2 separate regions of the Homo sapiens genome follow, and region 1 is linked to region 2. Evidence: fine-mapped expression QTL. A gene starts in region 2. The other region holds a variant in brackets. All regions are shown on one strand. Distances are from middle to middle.

Region 1 (9,219 bases), 31 kb after region 2:
CTATATTTCGTAGAATAACATAGTATTTTTACTCTGGGCTCATCTTTTCCTGCTGTTGGTATTTAAGCAACAAGTACCTTGCTGAGTTGGGCATCTAGGCCATTATGGATCCCTGGAGTTTAGCTGTTTCCTGGGTAATTTTCTGAGATCCTATTTTTGGCTGGTCTGCAGCGTGCCTTGATGTAAGTTGCTGTTTTCCGGAACTTCCTGAGGGCCTGATATGCTACTGTAGGCAGTTCTGGGTTGAGTGGGTTTCTAGGCTGAGCGGGTTTCTGGGAGCAGCTGCAGATTCTATCTCAGTTCTTGACCTGATGTTGACATTTGAGTAAATAAAGAGCTCCCTTTGGTCAAGCTGTCACAGGCCAGCACCTGTCACTGTCTTTCAATTCTCCATTCATGCAGCTGTGCTGGTAAAGCTGCCCGTTTTCCTAAAGAAATCTTTTTAAAAAACATTATGTTCCCCACTGCAGATCATAATGTGAGGAATGTAGATAGTGTGTGTACAGGTAGTGTCTGCTTTTTATAATAATCCAGTAGATTCTTGAAGACCACGTACTTAAGTAGATTACCTTGCATATGCCCTGTGTATTGCTGCTGTTCCCAGGAAACAAGTGGGTAAGGCTGGCATGGGGAGAAGGGCAAAGGAGGAATGGTCCAGAAATTACATATCATTAGCTGACATTCACTGTTGAAGGGGTGGAGATGACACAGACACATAGGGTAGGTACTTCCTGCACACATATGCACACATACTCAATGCACATGGGTGCTGTAGGTTCTGCGTGGTGTTTGTTCCCAGCCATGCATCTGTCATTTTCATCCCACTGCTGTGTTTAGAGTTAGGGTGATAATAAGTAAGTCTGCCATCTGACAATCACTTGAGGATAAGCATGGGAGCTGACTGCAACAGACCTTTCATTATTTTATGTGCAATGTAAAGAACCTGAGAATCAAGACACCTTTATTGCTGTGGCCTCTCTACCAGCTATGATTTGGTTTGGGTGTCCGGAGGCAGAGGCTGACACTTGGAGGTTTGGCAAAGGGAGTCCTCAGGGTTGGAGTAAGTACTAAAAATGCTTCCCAGGTTATCAGCTGTTTTCTACACTCATCTGGGGACAGACATTTCCTCGGCCTCACCCCTGCCCTGCTGTGATCTTGTGCTCAAGACAGCTCTAGTCTTTCATTTACAGAAAGGATGTAGAACCAAAACAATTCTTCATTGCATTGTAGGATGTTTAGCAGCATCTCTGACCTCTACCCAGTAGATGCCAGTAGCATCCCTCCCCGTTGTGATGATCCAAAATGTTTTTAGACTTCACTAAATGTCTCCTGGGACAGGGATTAAGGGAGCTTGAGGTGTCAAGGATGAGGTTAGGAGGTCTGTCTTGGGCAGCTGTATATATGGTAGTGTCATTCACTCAGATGAGAAACACTGGTAAAAAAAAAACAGCATTTGGGGGAAATCTTGAGTTTTATTTTAGACATGTTGAGTTTAGAGTGGCTTTGAGGTTTAGTCCAGAGATATAAATTTGGGTGAGTAGGTGGTAATTGAAGCTGTGAATGTGGATAAGATTGCCTAGGGAAAGAGGATAGAGAAGAAGGCCTAGGACCAAGCAGTGAGAAATTCTAACGGCTGGTTAGAGAAGGATGAGCTTGCAAAGGAGGCAGGGAAGGAGTGACAAGACAGGTAGGATAAAAACTGGGATGTCATAGATGGCAAAGAGAAATAGTATCACAAAAAGAAGAGAGTTATCAATAGTATAGAATACTGCTGAGAGTTGAAGAAGATGAGGACTTAAAACATGTTAGCTGTGTTTAGTAACATGGAAGTCAGCGTTTTTCAAACCTTTCTTTAGCACTTACTCATGCCCCTTTGACAAGGAAGGTGTGAAGTGCTCAGGCAGGAGTGTATGGAAACAAAACCAGGGCTGAAATCATTCACTTATTTATTCATTCAGGTATCATGTCATTCATGTACAGCATTATCTACTTAGGTATCAGCCTGTGTGCCAGGAACTAGGCACTTTTTTCATAATAGAGAATTCTGAATCCAGAAATCTGATGGCTTTCTGTTTTTAGATGTTTTCTGGGTCATTTGTTAAGAAATGTAGAATTTTACTATCACATTGATTCAGAAATGATGTTCCTAACCCTTAGTCAAAAATTTTGCTAAGATTCATGGTGGGTGAAACTATTGCCCTTACTTCCCTCACTTCTGGTGGAAATTCATCCTGATGGAGCCAAGCCTATGAAAGAGAGATGAGTGTAGAAATACATACCCATAAAGACATAGGAATGTACTAGTTGTCTAGAACTGTAAATTGCCATTAGTTTGGACTCCACCTTTACAAATTTGTGATTATTACAGACTCTGGAGGAGTTGAAAGTCCTCTTCGGTTAATTATGGAAAAACAGCTTGTTAAGCAAATGCTAATGTAAGAAGATCACAATGTGGGTAGGCTTAACCTAGTCAAAGGAGGAAGGGCCTTCAAGTGTATTTACATATCAACAGTGGATATGTTAATTAGTGTGCATTTTTAATTCAGGTCAGATGACAGCATTGAGAGTAACAGGGATGCATTTCTCTAAAATACTTTCTTTGAGATTTTTCAAGTTCAATGTGAAGAGTCAGTAGTTGGGTGTGATTAGTCATTACCCAAGTCCAAGGTGCTCAAAAAAGGTTAGTGTTTTAGTGTCTCTGTCATTTGACAGTTAATATTATGAATAGTTGTGCCCACAGTCTTAGAACTCCTTCCATGACATTGTCCCTCCATACTGACACTTCTCTTTCCTGCAGGTGAGGAGTAAGAGGAGCAGGCTCCTGCACAGTGACTACATGAACATGACTCCCCGCCGCCCCGGGCCCACCCGCAAGCATTACCAGCCCTATGCCCCACCACGCGACTTCGCAGCCTATCGCTCCTGACACGGACGCCTATCCAGAAGCCAGCCGGCTGGCAGCCCCCATCTGCTCAATATCACTGCTCTGGATAGGAAATGACCGCCATCTCCAGCCGGCCACCTCAGGCCCCTGTTGGGCCACCAATGCCAATTTTTCTCGAGTGACTAGACCAAATATCAAGATCATTTTGAGACTCTGAAATGAAGTAAAAGAGATTTCCTGTGACAGGCCAAGTCTTACAGTGCCATGGCCCACATTCCAACTTACCATGTACTTAGTGACTTGACTGAGAAGTTAGGGTAGAAAACAAAAAGGGAGTGGATTCTGGGAGCCTCTTCCCTTTCTCACTCACCTGCACATCTCAGTCAAGCAAAGTGTGGTATCCACAGACATTTTAGTTGCAGAAGAAAGGCTAGGAAATCATTCCTTTTGGTTAAATGGGTGTTTAATCTTTTGGTTAGTGGGTTAAACGGGGTAAGTTAGAGTAGGGGGAGGGATAGGAAGACATATTTAAAAACCATTAAAACACTGTCTCCCACTCATGAAATGAGCCACGTAGTTCCTATTTAATGCTGTTTTCCTTTAGTTTAGAAATACATAGACATTGTCTTTTATGAATTCTGATCATATTTAGTCATTTTGACCAAATGAGGGATTTGGTCAAATGAGGGATTCCCTCAAAGCAATATCAGGTAAACCAAGTTGCTTTCCTCACTCCCTGTCATGAGACTTCAGTGTTAATGTTCACAATATACTTTCGAAAGAATAAAATAGTTCTCCTACATGAAGAAAGAATATGTCAGGAAATAAGGTCACTTTATGTCAAAATTATTTGAGTACTATGGGACCTGGCGCAGTGGCTCATGCTTGTAATCCCAGCACTTTGGGAGGCCGAGGTGGGCAGATCACTTGAGATCAGGACCAGCCTGGTCAAGATGGTGAAACTCCGTCTGTACTAAAAATACAAAATTTAGCTTGGCCTGGTGGCAGGCACCTGTAATCCCAGCTGCCCAAGAGGCTGAGGCATGAGAATCGCTTGAACCTGGCAGGCGGAGGTTGCAGTGAGCCGAGATAGTGCCACAGCTCTCCAGCCTGGGCGACAGAGTGAGACTCCATCTC[A/C]AACAACAACAACAACAACAACAACAACAACAAACCACAAAATTATTTGAGTACTGTGAAGGATTATTTGTCTAACAGTTCATTCCAATCAGACCAGGTAGGAGCTTTCCTGTTTCATATGTTTCAGGGTTGCACAGTTGGTCTCTTTAATGTCGGTGTGGAGATCCAAAGTGGGTTGTGGAAAGAGCGTCCATAGGAGAAGTGAGAATACTGTGAAAAAGGGATGTTAGCATTCATTAGAGTATGAGGATGAGTCCCAAGAAGGTTCTTTGGAAGGAGGACGAATAGAATGGAGTAATGAAATTCTTGCCATGTGCTGAGGAGATAGCCAGCATTAGGTGACAATCTTCCAGAAGTGGTCAGGCAGAAGGTGCCCTGGTGAGAGCTCCTTTACAGGGACTTTATGTGGTTTAGGGCTCAGAGCTCCAAAACTCTGGGCTCAGCTGCTCCTGTACCTTGGAGGTCCATTCACATGGGAAAGTATTTTGGAATGTGTCTTTTGAAGAGAGCATCAGAGTTCTTAAGGGACTGGGTAAGGCCTGACCCTGAAATGACCATGGATATTTTTCTACCTACAGTTTGAGTCAACTAGAATATGCCTGGGGACCTTGAAGAATGGCCCTTCAGTGGCCCTCACCATTTGTTCATGCTTCAGTTAATTCAGGTGTTGAAGGAGCTTAGGTTTTAGAGGCACGTAGACTTGGTTCAAGTCTCGTTAGTAGTTGAATAGCCTCAGGCAAGTCACTGCCCACCTAAGATGATGGTTCTTCAACTATAAAATGGAGATAATGGTTACAAATGTCTCTTCCTATAGTATAATCTCCATAAGGGCATGGCCCAAGTCTGTCTTTGACTCTGCCTATCCCTGACATTTAGTAGCATGCCCGACATACAATGTTAGCTATTGGTATTATTGCCATATAGATAAATTATGTATAAAAATTAAACTGGGCAATAGCCTAAGAAGGGGGGAATATTGTAACACAAATTTAAACCCACTACGCAGGGATGAGGTGCTATAATATGAGGACCTTTTAACTTCCATCATTTTCCTGTTTCTTGAAATAGTTTATCTTGTAATGAAATATAAGGCACCTCCCACTTTTATGTATAGAAAGAGGTCTTTTAATTTTTTTTTAATGTGAGAAGGAAGGGAGGAGTAGGAATCTTGAGATTCCAGATCGAAAATACTGTACTTTGGTTGATTTTTAAGTGGGCTTCCATTCCATGGATTTAATCAGTCCCAAGAAGATCAAACTCAGCAGTACTTGGGTGCTGAAGAACTGTTGGATTTACCCTGGCACGTGTGCCACTTGCCAGCTTCTTGGGCACACAGAGTTCTTCAATCCAAGTTATCAGATTGTATTTGAAAATGACAGAGCTGGAGAGTTTTTTGAAATGGCAGTGGCAAATAAATAAATACTTTTTTTTAAATGGAAAGACTTGATCTATGGTAATAAATGATTTTGTTTTCTGACTGGAAAAATAGGCCTACTAAAGATGAATCACACTTGAGATGTTTCTTACTCACTCTGCACAGAAACAAAGAAGAAATGTTATACAGGGAAGTCCGTTTTCACTATTAGTATGAACCAAGAAATGGTTCAAAAACAGTGGTAGGAGCAATGCTTTCATAGTTTCAGATATGGTAGTTATGAAGAAAACAATGTCATTTGCTGCTATTATTGTAAGAGTCTTATAATTAATGGTACTCCTATAATTTTTGATTGTGAGCTCACCTATTTGGGTTAAGCATGCCAATTTAAAGAGACCAAGTGTATGTACATTATGTTCTACATATTCAGTGATAAAATTACTAAACTACTATATGTCTGCTTTAAATTTGTACTTTAATATTGTCTTTTGGTATTAAGAAAGATATGCTTTCAGAATAGATATGCTTCGCTTTGGCAAGGAATTTGGATAGAACTTGCTATTTAAAAGAGGTGTGGGGTAAATCCTTGTATAAATCTCCAGTTTAGCCTTTTTTGAAAAAGCTAGACTTTCAAATACTAATTTCACTTCAAGCAGGGTACGTTTCTGGTTTGTTTGCTTGACTTCAGTCACAATTTCTTATCAGACCAATGGCTGACCTCTTTGAGATGTCAGGCTAGGCTTACCTATGTGTTCTGTGTCATGTGAATGCTGAGAAGTTTGACAGAGATCCAACTTCAGCCTTGACCCCATCAGTCCCTCGGGTTAACTAACTGAGCCACCGGTCCTCATGGCTATTTTAATGAGGGTATTGATGGTTAAATGCATGTCTGATCCCTTATCCCAGCCATTTGCACTGCCAGCTGGGAACTATACCAGACCTGGATACTGATCCCAAAGTGTTAAATTCAACTACATGCTGGAGATTAGAGATGGTGCCAATAAAGGACCCAGAACCAGGATCTTGATTGCTATAGACTTATTAATAATCCAGGTCAAAGAGAGTGACACACACTCTCTCAAGACCTGGGGTGAGGGAGTCTGTGTTATCTGCAAGGCCATTTGAGGCTCAGAAAGTCTCTCTTTCCTATAGATATATGCATACTTTCTGACATATAGGAATGTATCAGGAATACTCAACCATCACAGGCATGTTCCTACCTCAGGGCCTTTACATGTCCTGTTTACTCTGTCTAGAATGTCCTTCTGTAGATGACCTGGCTTGCCTCGTCACCCTTCAGGTCCTTGCTCAAGTGTCATCTTCTCCCCTAGTTAAACTACCCCACACCCTGTCTGCTTTCCTTGCTTATTTTTCTCCATAGCATTTTACCATCTCTTACATTAGACATTTTTCTTATTTATTTGTAGTTTATAAGCTTCATGAGGCAAGTAACTTTGCTTTGTTTCTTGCTGTATCTCCAGTGCCCAGAGCAGTGCCTGGTATATAATAAATATTTATTGACTGAGTGAATGAGTTTTACATGGCCTTATGAATTAACGGTGAGTCTAAATGTTATAATCATACTTTGAGAGGGAGAAAGCCAGTTCTATTTTCTACTTTCCTCTTAAGAAGTTCAAAAATTCATTTTATTAAAAAAACAGGAGGTAAAATATATACACAGCCAAATCTAGTGAAAGAAAATCTGATGAATATAAGTTCATTTACGTTTTAGAAATTTTTGTGCAGTGAGGAAAACCAGTACTGTTAGAAAAGTCATGCCAACTCAGCCACTGTCAGGAGTAAGTTGATTTTCCATTGAAGTCCCCAAATTCCCTCTTAATGGAGTATTGGCTATATCTTAAACATATCTTTAGTTTAAGACTTCTGAAAATGTTGTCTTTGTCTAAAATGTTAAAATCCCATCCTACTACTGACCTGCTACTCTTTTTTCTGGGGTGATTTTACCCCCAACAAATTCTATAAATGCCTTCTCTGGCTCTGATTCAAAAAGTGCTCACAAATGGAAATGCTGGGGACAGAAAATTTCAACTTCTTCACCTGTCATACTCATATCATAGCTGAACACTCTAATAGCACACACACACACACACACACACACACACACAGACCCACACACACACACACACACCCCTATCATCTTCTGGGTAGGGGAAGGGAAAGGCGCTTGAACAACAGACACAAGAGCTGGTCTAATAATTCATGTAGCACCTTCTGTTTCCTTCGTTGAAATTTTACTCTGAAGGTGACTCAGAGTCAATTAAATTGGTGTGCAATGAGTTCATCTCTAAACTGATTCTTTTCTTTGGTGAAATGAAGCTTATTAAACTTAATAAAGGTAATTAAACTTGAAAAAGATGAGCTTATATGTCTCTTACTACTCCAAGAAAGACTGAACTCAGCTGGTTACTCATGGATAGTTCAATAAGACAAATCAAATCAATTGGAAAGGAACGAGATGGGTAAAAAAAAAAAAGCCATTAAATGAATCTGCTCAATAAGCACTCCTTTACCATGCTAATAAAAATAATGTAACCCAGTTCTGTAAAAAGGTTCTAGTACTTTGAAACTCAAGTTCAAAACAAAATAAAATGCAAACTTCGCTTCACCTAACACCTCCCACAACATTCTAGCTACCCAACTGGGTGAATATTGTAATTGCCCACAACCCCGAATTCACTTTTTCCCTCCAGTATGATAAAACAGATTGATTCCCTTTTAAAGCAATACCCTTTCTTCTCTCCCATCTTGTCGGTATCAGAGATAATGGATAGGTGAGAAAAAATTAAAGAAGCTTCTGGATTCATTGTAATGGGGACCTAACCATCACACTATGCAGCAGCAAATGGGATGGTCTGGAAAGCAGACCAGAACCTTGTCTGGTAACTTTGCTTCTAATGTCTGTCTGTGTTTCCTAAACTGAGGCCTAACTCTTGACTTTTTGACAGTGGTGCTCATAAGAAAGTTTGGGGCTGGGCACGGTCACTCATGCCTGTAATGTCAGCACTTTGGGAGGCTAATGCAGGAGGATCACTTGAGTCTAGGAGTTCAAGACCAGCTTGAACAACATAGGGAGACCCTGTCTGTATTAAAAAAAAAAATTAGCCAGACGTGATGGTGCAGGCCTGTAGTCCCAGCTACTTAGGAGGCTGAGGCTGCAGTGAACTGGGATCATACCCCTTCAAGAACACATGTGAATGGTGGGGCCTCTCAGCTTTCTCTGATTTGGCAACCCAGAAGAAATATGTGCTTTCTCTTTGAAGATTCACAGGATCCTAGCACTTGGAAACCTAGGCCACTGTCCAGAGCAGAAGGTCACACAATTTCTCAGAGTGACTTTTGTTCATTTCAGGGTGTTGACACCGGGCCCAACACTTGAAAATTGCTTGAGATGATAAATTGCTTGAGGTGATCAAAGAATATATCAGCTCTTCAAAGCTGACCTCATTCTTGGTGCAACTCTCAGGGCCAGAATGTGTGCTTCCCGAAGCTCATTTTCCTATCTGATTTGCCTGTTGAAACTCTGTGAAAGACCCTTGAATGCTAGGAATTTGAAGGGACAAAAAGTTGAAGAAAGGTGAATGGATTTCAGGGTGGAAGTGGACTGGATTTTACTCTCACTTCATCAGGCAGAGCTATCTCAGTGATAAATTGAAACTCTCCTCTGGCTCCAAAGAACAAATCATGAGCTGGGTGGAAATGTCAGTTGAGAAGAAGAGCAGCAAACAGCTTTGTTTTCCTATAGTTGTGGTTTTACATGGTGATGATGACACACGAAGATGAAAATGTGCAGCATGAACTCCAG
Region 2 (9,161 bases):
ACTTTGGGAGGCCAAGGCAGGTGGATCACCTGATGTTGGGAGTTCGAGACCAGCCAGACCAACATGGAGAAACCCCATCTCTACTAAAAATACAAAAATTAGCTGGGCCTGGTGGTGCATGCCTGTAATCCCAGCTACCTGGGAGGCTGAGGCAGGAGAATTGCTTGAACCTGGGAGGCAGAAGTTGCAGTGAGCCAAGATCGTGCCATTGTACTCTAGCCTGGGCAACAAGAGCGAAACTCTGTCTCAAAAAATAAAAAAATAAAATTAAATTAAATTAAAAAAAAGAAAATATGGCACATATATACTATGGAATACTATGCAGCCATAAAAAGAATGAGTTCATATCCATCGTCTCAGCCCAAAAACTCCTTCTGATAAGCAACTTCAGCAAAGTCTCAGGATACAAAATCAATAGGCAAAAATCACAAGCATTCCTATACACCAATAATAGACAAGTAGAGAGCCAAATCATGAGTGAACTCCCATTCACAATTGCTACAAAGAAAATAAGATACTTAGGAATACAGCTTACAAGGGATGTGAAGGACCTCTTCAAGGAGAACTACAAACCACTGCTCAAGGAAATAAGAGAGGACACAAACAAATGGAAAAACATTCCATGCTCATGAATAGGAAGAATCAGTACCATGAGATTGGCCATATGGCCCAAAGTAACTTATAGATTCAATACTATTACCATCAAGCTACCATTGACTTTCTTTGCAGAATTAGAAAAAACTACTTTAAATTTCATATGGAACCAAAAAAGAGCCTATATAGCCAAGAGAATCCTAAGCAAAAACAACAAAGCTGGAGGCATCCTGCTACCTGACTTCAAACTGTACTATAAGGCTACAGTAACCAAAACAGCATGGTACTGGTACCAAAACAGATATATAGACCAATGGAACGAAACAGAGACCTCAGAAATAACACCACACGTCTACAACCATCTGATCTTTGACAAACCTGACAAAAACAAGCAATGGGGAAAGGATTCCCTATTTAATAAATGGTGCTGGGAAAACTGGCTAGCCATATGCAGAAAACTTAAACTGGTCCCCTTCCTTATAGCTTATACAAAAATTAACTTAAGATGGATTAAAGATTTAAATGTAAAACCTAAAACCATAAAAACCCTAGAAGCAAACCAAGGCAATACCATTCAGGACATAGGCATGGGCAAAGACTTCATGACTAAAACACCAAAAGCAATCACAACAAAAGCCAAAATTGACAAATGAGATCTAATTAAAACTAAAGAGCTTCTGCACAGCAAAAGAAACTACCATGAGTGAATAAGCAAACTACAGAATGGGAGAAATTTTTGCAATCTATCCATCTGACAAACGTCTAATATCCAGAATCTGTAAGGAACTTAAACAAATTTACAAGAAAAAAACAACCCCATAAAAAGTGGGCAAAGGATACGAACAGACACTTCTCAAAAGAAGACATTTCTGCAGCCAACAAACATGAAAAAAAGCTCATCATCACTGATCATTAGAGAAATGCAAATCAAAACCACAATGAGATACCGTCTCACGCTGGTTAGAATGGCAATTATTAAAAAGTCAGGAAACAACGGATGCTGGCGAGGCTGTGGAGAAATAGGAACTCTTTTACGCTGTTGGTGGGAGTGTAAATTAGTTCAACCATTGTGGAAGACAGTGTGTCGATTCCTCAAGGATCTAGAACCAGAAATACCATTTGACCCAGCAATCCCATTACTGGGTATATACCCAAAGGATTATAAATCATTCTACTGTAAAGACATGCACACGTATGCTTATTGCAGCACTATTTACAACAGCAAAAACTTAGAACCAACCCAAATGCCCATCAATGATAGACTAGATAAAGAAAATATGGCACGTATATACTATGGAACACTATGCAGCCATAAAAAAGTATGAGTTCATGTCCTTTGCAGGGACATGGATGAAGCTGGAAGCCATCATTCTCAGCAAACTAACACAGGAGCAGAAAACCAAACACCACATGTTCTCACTCATAAGTGGGAGTTGAACAATGAGAACACATGGACACAGGGAGGGTAACATCACACACTGTGACCTGTCAGGGGGTGGGGATCAAGGGGAGGGAGAGCATTAGGACAAATACCTAATACATATGGGGCTTAAAACCTAGATGATGGGTTAATAGGTGCAGCAAACCACCATGGCACACGTATACCTTTGTAACAAACCTGCACGTTCTGCACATGTATCCCAGAACTTGAAGTAAATTTAAAAAAACAAAAAGAAAGAAAAATGTCTGTTCATGTCCTCTGCCTACTTTTTAATGGGATTGTTTTTTTCTTGTTGAGTTGTTTCAGTTCCATGTAGATTCTGGTTATTAGCCTTTTGTCAGATGTTTAGTTTGCAAATATTTTTCCCATTCTATAGTTATCTACTTACTCTGTTGATTGTTTCTTTTGCTGTGCAGAAGCTTTTTAGTTTATTTAAGTCCCATGTGTCTATTTTGTTGCCTTTGCTTCTGAGGACTTGTTCATAAATTCTTTGCCTCGGCAGATGTAAAAAAGAGTTTTTTCTTGGTTTTCTTCTGGGATTTTTATAGTTTCAGGTCTTACATTTAGGGCTTTAATGCATATTATGTTAATTTTTGTATATGGTGAGAGGTATGGGCCCCGTTTCATTCTTCTGCATATAGCTAGCCAATTTTCCCAGCACCATTTATTGAATAGGGAGTCCTCTCCCCAGCATATATTTTTGTTAACTTTGTTGAAGATCAGTTGGTTGTAGATATGTGGCTTTATCTCTGGGTTCTCTATTCTGTTCCATTGTTCTATGTATCTATTTTTATACTAGTACCATGCTGTTTTGGTTACTATAGTTTTACCATGTAATTTGAAGTTAGGTAATGTGATACTTCAAAGCTTTGTTCTTTTTGCTTAGGATTGCTTTGACTATTCAGCTCTTTTTGGATTCCACACGATTTTTAGGATTGCTTTTTCAAATTCTGTGAAAAATGACATTCTTTTGTTCTGACAATTCTTAACCCCACTTCAGACCAGTTTTCTCATCTGTAAAATGGAGATAATAATAATCTTCCTCACAGGTTGTGTATTAAATGAGATCTGGAATGTAAAGTTCTTAGTATGGAAATGCTATTATTTTTACTGAAAATGTTGTAGGGTCTCAGTATCCTGTGTATTGCCGGATTTAAGGTCCTTATTTTATTTCTGTCATTTCTACCTCTTGGTATATGTGAATGCTATTGGATTTCAAAAGCAAATGTGAAAGGATTCTAATGAAATGGTTTGCTTCTTTAGTGTCATACATGTTAAAACATAGGAAGGCAAATGTCAAAGTTTGTGTTTCTTTTTATTCTATGGAAAGAAAATTAAATATGGCTCATCAAATAATAAGGCCAATAATATTTAATTATTGTTTTGTGAATTCGTATAAATGAGCTGACCTCTCTGGGCTGCAGCTTCCTTCTCTGCAAGATAAGGGAATTAGGCCAGATGAGTGAACTGTTTCTTTTTCAGCTAAGTTTGACCCGATTACTACTATTTACATAGTATTAACTAGATGCTATGTAGTCATCTTTAATATGCTTGAAGACAGTTATTAACTCACTCCTTAGCCTTTTGTTGTTGATCATGGAAAACTACTGGGTATCTTTGTTTCTTCTGTGTATATTCTCAGTATGTATAATGAGTCTCAGAGCCTCTTGTTTTAAGATCTGGGTAGGCTGGTGGCTCTAGAATATGGATGACCTTTTAGGAAAGGTCACCTTGCCATCTGTAAATTTTCCCCCAGATAGACTTCAGGCCCTGGGGAAGGCATGGGTTCCCCTAACTGGATAGAGGATCAGAGCCAGGAAGACTGTGTCAAATTCTAGAAGTGAATCTTCTCCAGGACTCAGGGCATAGCTTTGTCACTTACCTATAGTTCAGAAGTGTGAGTGAATCATTTCCAAGGACAAATTTCTCCAAAGGACCAAAAGATGTGTTAGTAAGAGGGGTTCACAAAGACTGTGTTTGTGGGAAAATTGAAGTGTGAACAAAGAAGGTCTACCAGGACAGGAAATACTTTTGATCTGTCATTTATCAGATCAGGAGGGAGGGACATGAAGCCTGCCTCCTCTTACAGCTAGGTCATCAAAGAGTTTGACTGTAGCATTTTAAAATAGCGAAGAAAAAAAGGTAACAACACTAGGGGTTTGTTAAACAATTTATGATATAATTAGAGAATGGAATATTATGCATCAATTACAAATAATGTTTATAAAGATACTTAAATGACATGGGAAAATGTTCAAGATATAACAAATAATAGTACATATCTGATGAAAACTATAAGTAAAACATGATATTAAACATGTAAAAATCTTAACAGACCAACAGGTGGAAGGCAGTGGACCAGAATATTAGCAGTGTTTATATTAGGGTGGTAAGAATGTGGATGAATCTTGTTTTAATGCTTATAATTTTTCTAAACATTCTCAATGAAATATGCCTTACTTTTATAGTCAGAATAAAAAGCAATACAAGTTATCTTTTAAAACAACCCACATACACAAAACCCCCAACTAGAGTAATTGCACAAAGCTTAGATTATCAAAAAGAAGAAAAAAATTACTGGAAAAGTTTTGAAGAAGTCATTGAGTACAAGATACTGACGTAGGTGCCGGAAGAAGAGAGCAGTTGGCCGTGCTGGTGGAATAACCCTCTCTGCAAAGGGCCTGGGAGTTGAAGAAGGGTGCAGTCGGGTGGTGGTTATGAATCTCAGAAATCCTGCCACGGAGCCTCCTTTTGTGCCCTATTACTTAACCTTGAGGGACATAGAGAGCATGAGACACCAAGGGGCTTTTGGTTGCCTTACTGTCCCACTAAGAACATAGAATGTTGTTTTGACTTTCCCTTTGCTTAGGGAACCTCCCCCAGATACTCAGCTGGCTGGCTGCTTGCACGTAGAATGGGTTTTGCAAAGTTCCTAGAAGTGAGTTGGAGGAGGCTTGACATAAATCAAGCACTGTGTGCTAAATGCTCCAGAGGGCTACCTTATGTCCTACACAAATGTTACATTTCTAATATTTGTAACTCCTTTAAACGTTTATGCAGATGTTTCCCAATTCCTCAGTAGAATTCTTACCATTATCTTTTTGACACAACCTGTCCCCATCCTATGAAAATCTCTCCTCTGCTAGAGACTTTATTCTTTCTTTCTCTCTCTCCCCCTTCCTTCCTTCCCTCCCTCCCTCTTTCTTTCTTTCCATCTTTCTTTCTTTCTTTCTTTCTTTCTTTCTTTCTTTCTTTCTTTCTTTCTTTCTTTCTCTTTCTTTCTTTCTTTTCTTTCTTTCTTTCTTTCTCTTTCTCTCTCTTTCTTTCTTCCTTTCTTTTTTCTCTCTCCCCTTCCTTCCTTCTTTCCTTCTTTTCTTTTCTTTTCTTTTCTTTTCTTTCTCTCTTTCTTTCTGTCTTTCTTTTCTCATTCTGTTGCCCTGGCTGGAGTGCAGTGGCATGATCTCGGCTCATAGCAGCCTCCACCTCCTGGGTTCAAGCGATTCTCCTGCCTTAGCCTCCCTAGTAGCTGGGATTACAGGTACCCACCATGATGCCTGGCTAATTTTTTGTATTTTCAATGGAGACGGGGTTTCACCATGTTGGCCAGGCTCGTCTTGACCTCCTGGCCTCAAATGATCCACCCACTTTGGCCTCCCAAATTGCTGGCATTACAGGCGTGAGCCACTGCACCCGGCCTGTTCCTTCTTAAGAACACTTTGTCTCCCCTTTAATCTCTGCTGGATTTCAAGCACCCCTTTTACACAACTCTTGATATCCATCAATAAAGAATAATTCCCATAAGCCCATCATGTAGTGACCGACTATTTTTCAGTGACAAAAAAAAAGTCTTTAAAAATAGAAGTAAAAGTCTAAAGTCATCAAAACAACGTTATATCCTGTGTGAAATGCTGCAGTCAGGATGCCTTGTGGTTTGAGTGCCTTGATCATGTGCCCTAAGGGGATGGTGGCGGTGGTGGTGGCCGTGGATGACGGAGACTCTCAGGCCTTGGCAGGTGCGTCTTTCAGTTCCCCTCACACTTCGGGTTCCTCGGGGAGGAGGGGCTGGAACCCTAGCCCATCGTCAGGACAAAGATGCTCAGGCTGCTCTTGGCTCTCAACTTATTCCCTTCAATTCAAGTAACAGGTAAACAATGTTAATGTCTTTCTTTCTGTAAATATTTTTTGAGGTCTTCCAATTGGCTTAGTTTATTTTAAATTTCTAACAATGTGTGAAATTTGAACATTTGAAGTGTAGTTTTGCTGTAATAGGGCAATGTGTTATTTTGAAAATCATTGATTCTCAGACTACAATATAGTATCTTAACAAAAGTCCCTTGGAAATAAATTTTCTAAGCTATTAGTTTCTCTAGCTATTAGTTGATAGTGTCCCAAGAATTTATTATTATTATTATTATTTTAAATTGAGATGGGGTTTCACTATGTTGCCCAGGCTGGTCTCAAACTTCTGAGCTCAAGCAATCCACCTGCCTCTGCCTCCCAAAGTGCTAGGGTTACAGGCATGAGCTACCATGCCCGGCCAATAATTTTTAATTTATGTATCGTTTCTTTCTTTCTTTCTTTTTTTTTTTAATTTAAGAAAGCTGCTGTAAGTAGATTGGCTCTGGAAGCTCTGAATTTAGGTTGCCTATGTTCCTAACACAGGTCCAATTCTCACTAGGTAAGCTTAGGCTTAGCTATTATTTAAACTCTCCAAACCTCAGTTTCCTTAACTGTAAAGTGGGAATAATAATAAACCTCACCTCAAGGTCATTGTGAGGTAAAATGAAATAATCCATGCGAAGGGCTTAGCTCAGTCAGGCTTCAAGATAAATGTGAACTGTAATTACTCTATCTACCTGAATTGAATGAGTTCCAACATGAATTCTGGAGTCACCACAGAAGCTGCTACAACACCAATATTAATAAATTAGTTTTCTTTTACAATCGGCCAAAATGTATTTTCTTAGATTAAAATTCTTTAAGTTCCCAATGACGATGATGAGGAGGATAATACATCTAGCACTTTGAGCAGCACACAGTTCTCGTAACTAGAAGGTAGGTATTACAGTTAACTTCATTTCAGATGAAGAGACTGAGGGGTAGGCACATTAAGGGATTTGCCCAAGGATGTACAGGTGGCAGCTATAGGAGGCAGGGTCTGAACCACCTTAGTCTGACTCCAGTGCCGGTGTTGTTGATTATTATGCTATTCCATCTAACATGGTGTGATTTGTAATTTCATGGACTCAGGTAAATCCAGGGTTAAATTAACTTCGGAAAATCACAAGCACAATTCCTAACAGAAAGAATTTGTTACTTGGGTGGGCTGGAGTAAGATGCTCATTCAACGTGTTCTCAGAGTTAGAAAAAGGCCCCCGCTTGGTTCAAAAACTGGACTGATAGGGGTCAACAGTCATGCTTAAATAAGGACAGTTATTTTTCCCTGAAAGATACATTGAAAAGCCAGTATCCTCAATTTTCTTTCTTATTTTGGCAGTACAGAGACTGCATTATTTGTTGTTATTCTTAAACATTAAGTGTACATAGCCCAAAGAGTATAATTTCCCAATCTGCAGAGGTACAGTAGTTGCATATATACCCGTTTATTTTATGGTCTGACGTACCAGTGAGCACAAATTGTGTATATTTATAAAACGTGTTGATATAATGAAAGACATGAGTTGGCAATGAGATCTGGTACCAAGCGTTTACAGCTACCAAATATATTCTACAAGAATCTTTAACATTTATTTTAAAAAGGTCAAACCTTATTTTTAAGAGATCTCTCAAACTTAAAGAATATTTAAAATTACTTAATTTGTTAGACAGTCAAGGGAAGCCTACCCTGACTGAAAACTATTTAAAATTGGTAATTGTACACTAAATACTTTTCTGATGTGCTTTGTGGACACCTATCTGTCATCAACTTATTCACTCTCTTTTGAAGAGTTTTTGGTAAGACTCAAAACTTTGTATGTTTTCTTTAGAACATTTATTAAAAGGGGACTAGCTAGATAAGTGGTTGGAGAGTTCACACACATAGGGCCTTTGTTTTCTACTTTGACATATATTTACTTTTCAAATGCCAATTCACTTTTCTAGTAACTTTTAGCATTTGATACTGAGTGGCTATCTAATGAAGAAGGAAAGAGATGGGAGTGAAGGGGACACTTTTACAGTCTTTTCCAGTAAGAAAACTTACGAGCAAGAAAAGAATGACCACATAAAAAATGTATGATTTGGCCTGGTGTGGTGGCTCACGCCTGTAATCGTGGGACGCTGAGGCGGGTGGATCACTTGAGGTCAGGAGTTGGAGACCCGTCGGGCTAACATGGTGAAATCCCATCTCTACTAAAAATACAAAAAAATTAGCAGGGTGTGGTGGCATGCGCCTGTAATCCCAGCTACTTGTGAGGCTTAGGCAGGAGAATTGCTTAAACCCGGGACGCGGAGGTTGCTGTGAACTTAGATTGCACCCCTGCACTCCAGCCTGGGAAACAGTCTCAAAAAAAAAAAAAAATTATGCTGCATTCTAATCAAATAGTGCAAAGCTTCTTGTGTGCTTTGCCTTTCTCTGTACACACCTTCCATTAAGAAATTATAGATAGGGAAATTCTCTGGTCAAAGTGTAACTGTCCTTCCTAGGTCTGAGAAACCACTGTTATGCCTGTGTTGAGATGTGTATCTGTGTGCGTGCATGTGTGTGTATGTATGTATATGAAGAATAGTTCTTTTTTCCATTAATTTAATAATGTGTGTGTATGTATGTATATGAAGAATAGTTCTTTTTTCCATTAATTTAATAATGTAACTTATTTGTTTACAGCATAGCTTAAAATATTTATTCTATAAAGGTTAAGTCTAACCTGATTCCTTATGAGTTGGATGACAGTGTAGAGAGATATTTATGGCTAAGTTAAAGAAGTGTGATTTAGGAAGAGTGAGGAAACCTTAACTTAGATAAGCCCTTTGCATGTTTTCTACTAGACTCGGATAATTGTGCAACTGAGATCCACAGAGAGTATTTTGCTGGACTTTGGGATAGGAGTCCAGCCCAGAACTACAGAGCCTTAAGAGGGAAATGCTCTGGGATTGATGATAGAAGGATGGTATGCACAAAATACTT

What was found. PIP is the estimated chance that this variant, and not a neighbour inherited with it, causes the effect.
Region 1: its variant is fine-mapped to the expression of CD28 in whole blood (TOPMed, PIP 0.94).

The regions. Positions count from the first base shown.
Region 1 is chr2:203,731,987-203,741,205 of GRCh38, forward strand. It overlaps CD28 (CD28 molecule), which reads left to right. Exons shown (of 4, transcript NM_006139.4): 4 at 2,798-6,926. The coding sequence ends at 2,926. Among named protein-coding and RNA genes, the nearest start is that of CD28, 30 kb to the left of the region's middle. The variant A/C (reference allele first, on the strand shown) is at 4,022.
Region 2 is chr2:203,700,570-203,709,730 of GRCh38, forward strand. CD28 (CD28 molecule) reads left to right here and starts at 6,070. Exons shown (of 4, transcript NM_006139.4): 1 at 6,070-6,179. The coding sequence starts at 6,128. RefSeq lists an enhancer at 5,950-6,099.